2 separate regions of the Homo sapiens genome follow, and region 1 is linked to region 2. The links come from fine-mapping of genetic effects on gene expression. A gene starts in region 2. The other region holds a variant in brackets. All regions are shown on one strand. Distances are between the middles of the regions. Region 1 overlaps KCNA6-AS1 (KCNA6 antisense RNA 1). Region 2 holds the start of GALNT8 (polypeptide N-acetylgalactosaminyltransferase 8).

Region 1 (5,490 bases), 97 kb before region 2:
GGACCAGGACAGTGGAAGTTTGAAAGCCACTGGAACAGGGTAGGAAAACTCTGGGCCAGGGGCTGGCTTGTGGGTTCTGTCCCTTCTGCTAACTATAAGACCCTGCATTCTTCCCAAGGAAGAAGGCAGGAGCAGGTGTGTGAGGAAAACTCGAATGCAGTGTCAACCACTGAGAATGTTAAAATGGGAGAGGGAGATCAGTGGCAGTACTGAGAAAGGGATCCATAGAAAGATGTTCCACGTATATATGCTACACACATATAGAATATATAGCACCATATGTGTTTGTGTATATACGTGGGTATATGTATAAGCATGCATGTATGTGCCTGTGCATACGTGTGTATATGTTTGTGTGTGCATATACGTGTGTATACATGTGCATATGTATATTCATGTTTCTGTATATATACGTGTGTGTATATGTGGTTTTGTGTGTGCATATGTGTATATATGTGTATGTGTGTGTTTTTGTGTATGTATGTATGTGTATGTATGTATATATATTTATGTGTGTATATACGTATGTGTGTATATGCATATGTGTGTGTGTGTGTGTGTGTGTGTGCACTTTCAGGGACCCATAGGGAACAAAAGCACAGGACACCTGCTGCTGCTCCATCAGAGACAAGCTGGCATGTAAACAGAAGTCTATAAACACATTTAGGAGCTATGGCTTCATTCTTCTTGCCCAATAACAGTTAGACCCTCACTGCATTCCATTCTGTTCCATCTCCCCTGAAGAGGATGAAACACACATTACTGTGTGCCTTTAAAGACATCACAACCCCTCTGAGCTTCAGTTTTCTTATCTGCCAAAGAAAAAAACAAAGCCTAGCCTACCTACTTCATTTCACTGCTGCAGGATGATAATAACAGCTGACATTGTACATTTAAACACTGTACATACATTAATTCATTTAATCCTCAAAACAACCCTATCAGATTGGTACTATTATTATCCTCCATTTGACAGAGAAAGAAACTGAGGCCACAGAACTGTTTCATAACTTGCCCCATGTTACCCAGCAAAGGAGGGATTTGAGCCGCGACGATCAGGCTCCAGCAACTATGCTCTTAAACCCTTTGTTAAATCGCACGATGTCTGAAAGCACTGAACGTGTTTGACAATGTTCTGTAAATGAATAGCACCATTCTTATTCTTGCTAGGACTATTCCCAGTGGGAAGGATGCAACGCAAGGTCAGGATTCCCTAGGTGAGGATAAATCCTGCAACCTCAGATCTGCAGCCCCACTAGCCAGGTGCCACGCTTCCAGTGGCAAGTCCTCCCCGCCCCTCCCAGCTGCAGGACTGTCTTCCTATGTTCTTTTTCAAAGCAGTGTCTCTGCTGCCAAGAGCAGGTTTGTCTGTCTCCTGGAGACAGCGGTTGTCAAGCCCTGAGAGAACAGCAAGCATGTCAAAAATAGCAGCGCCAGCAGACTGCGTGGCTGCAATTTCCTTTTGAAATGTCGCCTTTGCTCTCACCAAAGAGCCAGGGTCTGTCTGCGCTCCTTGCAGCCTGCAGCAGAAGCTGCTTAAGATTCCAAAATGTTTTCCAGGAGGAGGTAAAGTGTATCTGCTGAGGCTCGTGACCGAGGAGTGAGGAATTCTCTTTAGAGTAACAATGATGAGGTTGGAGTTGGATTAAAAAAAAAATTGTAATAAATCCCATCAGGACTAGTCCCCAAACAGGTCAAGTGATAGCCAAGGTTAGACCAGTGCGAATGATACTTCCTGTAGGGTAGGAACCTTTCCTCTTTTGTTCTGAAAATGAGGGAGTCCCTCTCCTATTGTTAATGTGCACCTTCAAACACAGCAGCTGCTTTGATAACCCTTCAAAGGCAGTGGCTGATAGATTTCCACTCCCCCTTTAGGGTACCAGGTGAAGCCAGGGGATGAGGACCAAGAAGACCAAGAGGCAGGGTGAACTATTTTCTCAAGTTCAGAACAAAGGGACATGAAAAACATGACCATTCCCAACCCCACAGAGACTCACTCAAGGCCAGCACAGGAAAGTGGTTCATCAGGAGACCTGGCAAGATGAGAGGCTAAAAGCCCATCTGTCTTTCTTCCCCGCGGCCTATGTCTGGGAAGATCCCTCTCCCTGCCAACTGCCAAGCTCCAGACCCTGTTCTGCCATGAGCTATCTGTGCAACCCAAGGCAAAATATGAAGCGGGATGGAGAGAGGAACTCCTACCACCTAGTAAATGGAATTCTTTTCCTCCCCTAAGTGACTGTGACAAGGTAGGATTGGAGGACACTTTCCTCCCCACTTCCTTCCCATGGCAATAACACACAGTCAAAACCCATGTGAGCCAGGATGGCAGCTCCAGCCAGATTGTCCTGGAAGGACCACGCTCTCTGGGAATCTATCTTGGAATGTATGTTGAGTTGCAGGCAGATAGAAATGCTGCTGCAAGCAAGGGCTCAGCCAGCGGAGAGGAGAAATGACAAGCCACAGGACTGGCTGGTGCATCTGAGGAAAGCACCAAGGAGAGGGAAGGGAGGGTCCAGTGGGCACAAGGCAAAGCAGGCCAAGAGGGGATCAGAGTCTGGGAGAGAATCATTGAAAGGCTCAGTAAGACAAATGAAGGCCGTTACCGTCCACTTCTTTTGTTTACCGGAAGCACCAAAGACTGCTGGGACCTCTTCATAGGGCTGTTAAGCATCAATAACGACTGTAGAGGGACTGTAGGTAGGGGGCCAGGGAAAATAAAACCTTTATGTACCCACAAAAAAAATTTCAAAAAATTCAAAAATAAAATAATAACCATAGTAGATAAATACATAAAACCTTGGGCCCTATGCAATCTCTTAAGGAATTCTGAGTTTACAGGTGCAGGGATTTGGTGGGGTTTTTAGTTTGTGGGAACTTTTCTTGGAGTTTTTTTCTTTTTGCCAGCAAAGTGTAAGTTCCCTGGGCAAGCTCAAGACCGTAGTCCTGTATAATGAATAATGTTCAACATATATATCATAGTTCAGTGCATGCTAATTATGCCCTGCACTTACCCAAAAAATGGCATGACATATCTTTAGAGGAAAAAAAG[A/G]AAAAAGAGAAAAGCATGTAACTCTCATAACAATTTGATGTCAAAACGAAGCACACACAGACACACACACACACACACACACACACACACACACACACACACACACACCAGTTCGTGGTATTGTGCATGAATAGCAACGATCGACTGCATATAAGCTCTAAAGTGTCCCCATGTGGCAGAAGAAAAAAACTGTCATTCTATTCTAGATATTGTCTGGTCCATTTTTAGACATGCTAAGCTTCTAGATTTATAGGACCAAACCGTTCTCCCAGCCCAGATGGAAAACTCCCAGATTATTAGACTCGTTGCTTTCTTTTTTTTCACAATTCAATGATTTTGGGGTGCGATTTTTAGAGTTGTATGATTATTACCACAATCCTGCTTCACAGCATTTCTATTATCCCCCAAAACTTATCTGGGGCCAATTGTAATAGCACAACCTTCAACCCCATGGGGGCCCCTCAGGTTGTCCTAGTGTCCTGCTGCAGGTGGGACTTAGCCCATGCTCTAAGACTTCTAGCAAGGAGACCATCAATTCTCCTTGCGGACTGCCTGGTGAATCTTAATCCTCCTTGTCAAGGAGTGTTCCCTGCACCTTGCACCACAGAGATTTATGTCCTTTCCTTTTGTTCTGCCTTCAGTACCCGAGAGAGACAGCCAGATACTAGCAAAACCTTCAAGTGAATTAAGGGCAGTTCTAAAGCCATCCCCTATTTAAGGCTTTTTCCAGGCTAACTCCAACCTTATGCCTGCCTCCTAAGCCCTCTTTTCTCTGTTTATTTGACATTTCTACTGTTCCTCTGTCTTTGACCTCTCTGCCAGCCTCCTAAGCTTGGAGAACCTGAGGTGGTCCAGGGCTACTCAGCAGAGGATTTGTCTGAGACTTCTCAGGGTCATTCTCTCCCTCCCAGCCTGCCTTCTCTCATTTATGCTTGCAGGTTCAGGAAATTTCTGGGAGACATTTTTCTGAGCCCATGGCAGTCTCATCTTGCTTGGCAGGTTCAGGACTTGCCTCCACAGAGGTGAGCATGGTAGGAAAGAATGGCAGAGTGAGAAGTCAGGAAAAAGTGGAATACTCCTGCTGCAGACAGACCTTAGCAAGCACAGCTGTCCTACAGTTCAATGTGCGACCTCGACGTCAACACTCTAGGTGCTCCCAGCCACTGAAAAGGTGGAGAGAGGGAGAAAGATAAGCAGGAAGACACACATAGAAGGAAGAAGATGGTAAAAGAACAGAGGGGGAAAACCAGAAGAAAGAAAACTGGAGAAAGGGGAAAAAAGGCAGAGACAGTAAGAATGAAAAGAAGGAAAGAGAAAAATGCACAGAAAAAGAGATAATTTTTTACAGGGGCCAGCAGCATCAAGGGGACAGAAACAGAGAAAAAGGAAACTGAAGTTAATGGAGTCAAAGAAAAATACACAGAAAAAGCGAGGTAGCCCCTGAGGGAAGGGGAATGAAAACCTTGCCTCTCTCCAGATGCACACGCTTCCCCACTTTCTCTCTCTCCCCACCCCGTTCTAATTTTGCCTGCAGGACTGAGCCAAAACCAAAATTCCCCTCCAGTAGAACCTACCTCACCTGCAAAGAAGGCGAGCTGTCCCTCCTCGCTCCTTGGGGACGAATATCCCGCATCTCAGGCTGAGGCTGGCAGCTCCAGGAAGTCCTCTGGGAGCTCTTTCCGGCTTGAGTCAGGTGTAGTGATGGCTTGGACCCTTCCTGTGAATCACCACCCCAGCTGTCCAGGCAACCCAGAGTGCATATTCTCTTGGTGCTCAAGGCACAAAATCCAAATAAAGAGGCTCAGGGTCCGAGAGGGATCACTTGACAAAATTCTTCACAGAAACTAGGTCGAGCTACAGCCTCTCAGTTTTTCTTCGATGTCTTAAGAAGAAAGATCTTTGAGATTCCTCCCAGGAGCTAGATAGGCCGTTCCCAGAGAGGAAGAAGTTGCAATTCTCCGCCTCTCGTGGAGCTGGGAAGAGCCTGCCTCTGCGGAGATGGGAACTCCATGATACCTAAGACTATGATCACACCTGGTAAGGCCCAGCTTGGCCGCCACTCCAAGAAGTTGTCCCCTCTAAGGGCTCCCCTCGACAGCTTGAAAAAATTAATACTGACGTTGGTTTAACTGGTTGCTTAACATTCAAATTTCTGAAGAATCAGGAGTAAGATGAGGCAGCTTCAATGACTGGGTGGGGAAACTAGGAAGAAAAGTCCAGACAGGAAGCTTTGAGGCCCTGCTTCCTCCACATTTTCCAAAAGTCCCACATCCGTGCCCTGGCACTCCCAGCCCCTAAGCCACGATGTGGGAGGTGCTCCCATTTGAGAAGCTGGGAAGATGTAGTCCCCTGGTCTCCCTTGATGCCCAAAGCAGAAGATAGAGAGAACAGTCTGGAAGGTTGCTACGGCAACCAGAGTCCCTGGTGAGCTGGGCTCTCCA
Region 2 (5,256 bases):
AACACCTCCCTATGGGGTTCCAGCATTTGATCCCTGTTACCTGGGAGCAGGGGGAAATTGCTGCTTCCCTTGCTGAAGTTGGATGCACAGGCACATAAAATTCAGAGGCATTAGACTTCCATGGTGAGCCGGAATCACAAACAAACCCCAGAATGTGTTGAAATCTTACCCTTAAGTTTAAATGAGGAGGTTAAAATTTGGCACAGAGCAGTTTATAGATCACCTTCTGCATCTACTTCACAACCCTATTAGGTCAGGTTGATAACTATCACTATTGTTATCATCATCTCCATTTACAGACCAGGAACCTGAGGCTGAGAGAGAGAAGCACTTGCTCAAAGTCACACAACCACAATGGCACATCAGGATTCGATCTTAGGTCCTCTAACAAAGCCCTCATTAGTTCATGAAAGGAGCACACCGCAAAATGGAAGCGAGGCCCTTGCCCCAGAGATTGCCACCTCTCTTCAACAGCCCCTACCACACATAGGCGTGGGGAAAGGAAAGAGAGATCAGATTGTTACTGTGTCTGTGTAGAAAGAACTAGACATAGGAGACTCCATTTTGTTCTGTACTAAGAAAAATTCTTCTGCCTTGAGATGCTGTTAATCTGTAACCGTACCCCCAACCCCGTGCTCCCTGAAACATGTGCTGTGTCGACTCAGGGTTAAATGGATTAAGGGCTATGCAAGATGTGCTTTGTTAAACAGATGCTTGAAGGCAGCATGCTCGTTAAGAGTCATCACCACTCCCTAATCTCAAGTACCCAGGGACACAAAACACTGCGGAAGGCCACAGGGACCTCTGCCTAGGAAAGCCAGGTATTGTCCAAGGTTTCTCCCCATGTGACCATCTGAAATATGGCCTCGTGGGAAGGGAAAGACCTGACTGTCCCCCAGCCCGACACCCGTAAAGGGTCTGTGCTGAGGAGGATTAGTAAAAGAGGAAGGAACGCCTTTCTGCAGTTGAGACAAGAGGAAGGCATCTGTCTCCTGCCCGTCCCTGGGCAATGGAATGTCTCGGTGTAAAACCCGATTGTATATTCCATCTACTGAGATAGGAGAAAACCGCCTTAGGGCTGGAGGTGGGACATGCGGGCAGCAATACTGCTGTTTAAGGCATTGAGATGTTTATGTGTATGCATATCTAAAGCACAGCACTTAATTCTTTACCTTGTCTATGATGCAGAGACCTTTGTTCACGTGTTTATCTGCTGACCTTCTCTCCACTATTATCCTATGACCCTGACACATCCCCCTCTCCGAGAAACACCCAAGAATGATCAATAAATACTAAGGGAACTCAGAGGCTGGCGGGATCCTCCGTATGCTGAACGCTGGTCCCCTGGGCCCCCTTATTTCTCTCTACATACTTTGTTTCTGTGTCTTTTTCTCTTCCAAAGTCTCTCGTTCCACCTAACGAGAAACACCCACAGGTGTGGAGGTGCAACCCACCCCTTCAATAGGCCTAAGGACAGGTCTATGGCCCTTGGGATTCTTATTCTTCTCGTTGCCTGCACATATGTAGATATAATGATAATGCATGTGCACAAGCCCACACACGCATACACACACACATGCTCACCTCCCCCATACTGCTTGCTCTAATTTCCACTTCTACTCACTTCATTCTCAATACCCATCTCCCATTTGAAGGCACAGAATTCAGTGTCAGATGCTTCAATGAGCGACTGAGATGAAAATGTGACCTCTCACCCATTTTTCCTTCCATATCCCTTTTTCCTAAGTGCCCCAAACACACACACCCACACACACACCTTCCAGGTTAGCATTGTAAACTTACTCAGATCCTGCAATTCCACCTCCAAGTGGGAGAGTCTCTTTATCACTGCCCCGTAGCGTTTATTCAGATGTAAAGGAAGCTCCCTGTGGAGACCACCCGTAAACAGGTTTTGTAAAGTCCCCTTGCTAGAAAATACCAGAAGGAGATTGACAGCAATGGCCAGAGTCAGCCCAATGAAGAGGGCTTTGGGGAGTTTCCTCCAAAACATCATCTTCTTCCTGGGGGTCGTCCACTCCCTGTGGGACTGAGTGTGTCACTGCTGGAGCAGGTTAAGAATCAGAACCAGCCTAGCTTTTGTGGGAAAGAGAGTTCTAGGTGCCAGTTGAGTTGGTCTCCCCTGTGTGAGACACCCATGGGAAGCCACGGGTGGCCTCTGAGGAGCAAAGTCTCCTTATTGCCTTCTTTGTCTTTATGCCCCGAGAGGATAACCGCTCAGCGGCTTTCCACAGGTTGCTCAGCGGCTTTCCACAGGTTGCTCAGGGAGATAACACTCCCTTGAAGCAGAGGAGTATAATCAAACATCTTGGCTCCTCCTGAAACCCACTCCCACCCATTTCAGTCATTAAAGATCTTAAGTAGTTTAGACACACGCCTTTGCTCAAGGAAATTCACAGAAACCGCCACTGTTACACATCTTATCGAATGACTCACTGATTAATCCTTTTCCTCATCCCTTCCTCCCCTTCCCATCTGCCCTAAGAACAAAGAGCTTGTAAACCAATAAATTGGGTGGAGCCCAGAGCTCTGGGCCGTGAGCAAGCCTCCAACGCTCTGGTCCCCTGGACCTGCCTTTTAAACGCTTGTTCTGTCTCTTTCTAACTCCTTTGTCTCCGCCGGACTCGGGGTATCCGCTGGGTGGTGTGGGGCTGGTTTCCCCAACAGCTTTCTCTCCACCCAGCTTCATAGATGACACCCTGCCTGCTAGGCCAGATGTTCTCCGGCCAAGAACACTATTATAGCTGCCTGGCTTCTCCCTGAGCAGCGTCAGGTGTGAGGAGTGCGCATGGCAGCTGCCCAGTGACAGGTAAGTCACCTGGACACACCTTGTACTGTCTCAGAAGTCAGAAGAATGCTTGCTCCTGCAGCTAGCTCAGGCTGCCTGGGTGAGAGGCTTTTCTCTATATATGTTTGTTTGATGTTTAATGTTCTCTCTCCCTGGAAAAACCACCTGGGAGACTCTGATAGGGCATGTGAGGTCTGGTCCTGTGGGTATAAGAAGGGGATAAATAGGATGAAGAAGAAATCACGAAGCAAGAAGTCTCTGTACACTTAGATCCTTGCTTTTTTGGAGAGCTGGGATCTAAGATGTCTTTTTACCTAACTCTACAGGGTTTTGGACATAGTAGGTGTGCAACAAATGCTTGTCCCACAAACTTAAGGACAGACTTTCTTGCTAGTTCCTAGGACTTCACTGCCTAGAAGCAGGTGGAGAAGAGCTGGAGGCGGTGCCCGGGGTTGAGCCTCAGGGGATGACTCCGATTCACTGGTCTCTGTCCTTTGCTTGTCCTCTGCACAACTTCATACACTGGGCTTCTGCCCTGCCCCAGCTTCCAGTAACTCCTTTGCCTCCACACCTCACACTTATAATATGTTTTGGACAAATCACCAGTGATCATCATTGTAGAATAAACACATAAAATTGTTCCCCAAGGCTAAAAGTTCAAAGTTCTCAGTCTACTGTCAATCCCGTCAAAATCACAGCTTCCACCCCGGCCTGGCTCTTTGGACTATTTACTACGTCCCAAACACAGCACATGGTGACATGTGCTGAGGCGGACATGTGGATTAAAGGAAAGTAATGTGGCTTTAGGAAAAACAGGATGAAAATGAACAAAATGAAAAGGAATCACTTCTTCTGTTTCGCAGGGATAGAAAATGTCTCCCAGCCTCCCACTTGCAAATTAGACTCAAAACATAAGAAACGCATGATCCAGCCAGGCGCAGTGGCTCACGCCTGTAATCCCAGCACTTTGGGAGGCCGAGGCAGGTGGATCACCTGAGGTCAGGAGTTCAAGACCAGCCTGGCCAACATGGTGAAACGCCATCTCTACTAAAAATAACAAAATTAGCTGGGCATGGTGGCAGGCACCTGTAATCCGAGCGACTTGGGAGGCAGAGGCAGGAAAATCGCTTGAACCCAGGAGGCGGAGGTTGCAGTGAGTCGAGATCGCGCCACTGCACTCCAGCCTGGGCAACAAGAACAAAACTCCATCTCAAACAACAACAACAACAACTACAAAAAACAAACAAACAAAAAAGCATAACCCTTCTGCTTCTGGGACAAGAAGAAATACCTACATTTATCTTCTCTATTCCTTCCCATCAAGGCAAGTAAAAAGTACACATGATATGTAAAACAAACCTAAGAAGACTCTGAAAGGTAGAGAGAACAGGGCAGGCTGACTAGAGATCTCCAGATATCCTAGCTATTGTAGGAAATAGATTCCAAGTTGCTGGATGCTGGAGCAGTCAACAACTTGGAAATGCAATGGGCAGAGACAATAGAAGCCCCAAGAAAAAGCTGCTTTCTCTAACCAAAGAAACAGGAAATGGGAAGCCTAGCAAGACAGAAGATGTTTAGACAACAACTGCCCTACTCCAGCCAAATGCCACTGAAAACCTTGCAGTGCCATGCCCACCACATCCACAGAGGCCTCGTGGGGAGCCTAGACTTCCAACCTCACCCCAGCTGTGAGGGTTTGCCCCTGCATCCCCCACCTTCCCCTCCAGGGTGTGTCAGTGAAGGTCTCTTGGGGAGCTGGCATTTTTGTCATTGTCCCCACATGATATCAGTAAAGGAACAGTGGCCCTCCCCTTTTCAGCCAGTGTGGTGTCAGCAGAGGGCTAGTGGGGAACCTGAACTCCCTCCCTCACCCATCAGTAATGAGGCAGCCCTCCCCACCAGGTGTCAGTGGAGGCCAAGCATGGAACCTGGGCTTCCTCTCCCACCTGGCAGCGATGAGATGAAATCTCCCTCTCCCCACCAGAACAGTGTATGAAAGGCCTGCTAAAACAGATTTACATAGGATCCAGAGTCTCAAAAAGTTATATTCAGAATGGCCAAGATGCAATAGAAAATCACTTGTCATATCAACAACCAGGAAAATCTCAACTTGGAAGAGCCTATCAACAGACAGCAACACCAGCCGGGCATGGTGGCTCATGCCTGCAATCACAGCACTTTGGGAGGCTGAGGCAGGAGGAGGATGGCTTGATTCCCAGGAGTTTGAGAGCAGCTTGGGCAACATACTGAGACCCTGTTTCTACTAAAAAATAAACTTTTTTTTAAATTGGCATGGCATGGTGGCTCACACCTGTAATCCCAGCACTTTGGGAGGCTGAGGCAGGCAGATCACTTGAGCCCAGGAGTTCAAGACCAGCCTGAGCAACACGGTAAAACCCCATCTCTACAAAAAATTTAAAAAAATCAGCCAGGCATGGTGGCACATGCCT

Evidence for each region.
Region 1: its variant is fine-mapped to the expression of GALNT8 in whole blood (TOPMed, PIP 0.92).

What each region holds. Positions count from the first base shown.
Region 1 is chr12:4,813,917-4,819,406 of GRCh38, reverse strand. All of the region lies in intron 1 of KCNA6-AS1 (KCNA6 antisense RNA 1), which reads left to right. It also overlaps a transcript of KCNA6 not described here. Among named protein-coding and RNA genes, the nearest start is that of KCNA6, 7.3 kb to the right of the region's middle. The variant A/G (reference allele first, on the strand shown) is at 3,050.
Region 2 is chr12:4,717,436-4,722,691 of GRCh38, reverse strand. GALNT8 (polypeptide N-acetylgalactosaminyltransferase 8) reads right to left here and starts at 2,292. Exons shown (of 11, transcript NM_017417.2): 1 at 1,804-2,292. The coding sequence starts at 2,014. It overlaps GAU1 (GALNT8 antisense upstream 1), which reads left to right and starts at 2,590. Exons shown (of 4, transcript NR_110112.1): 1 at 2,590-2,827. RefSeq lists enhancers at 184-1,179, 1,180-2,175, 2,176-3,171.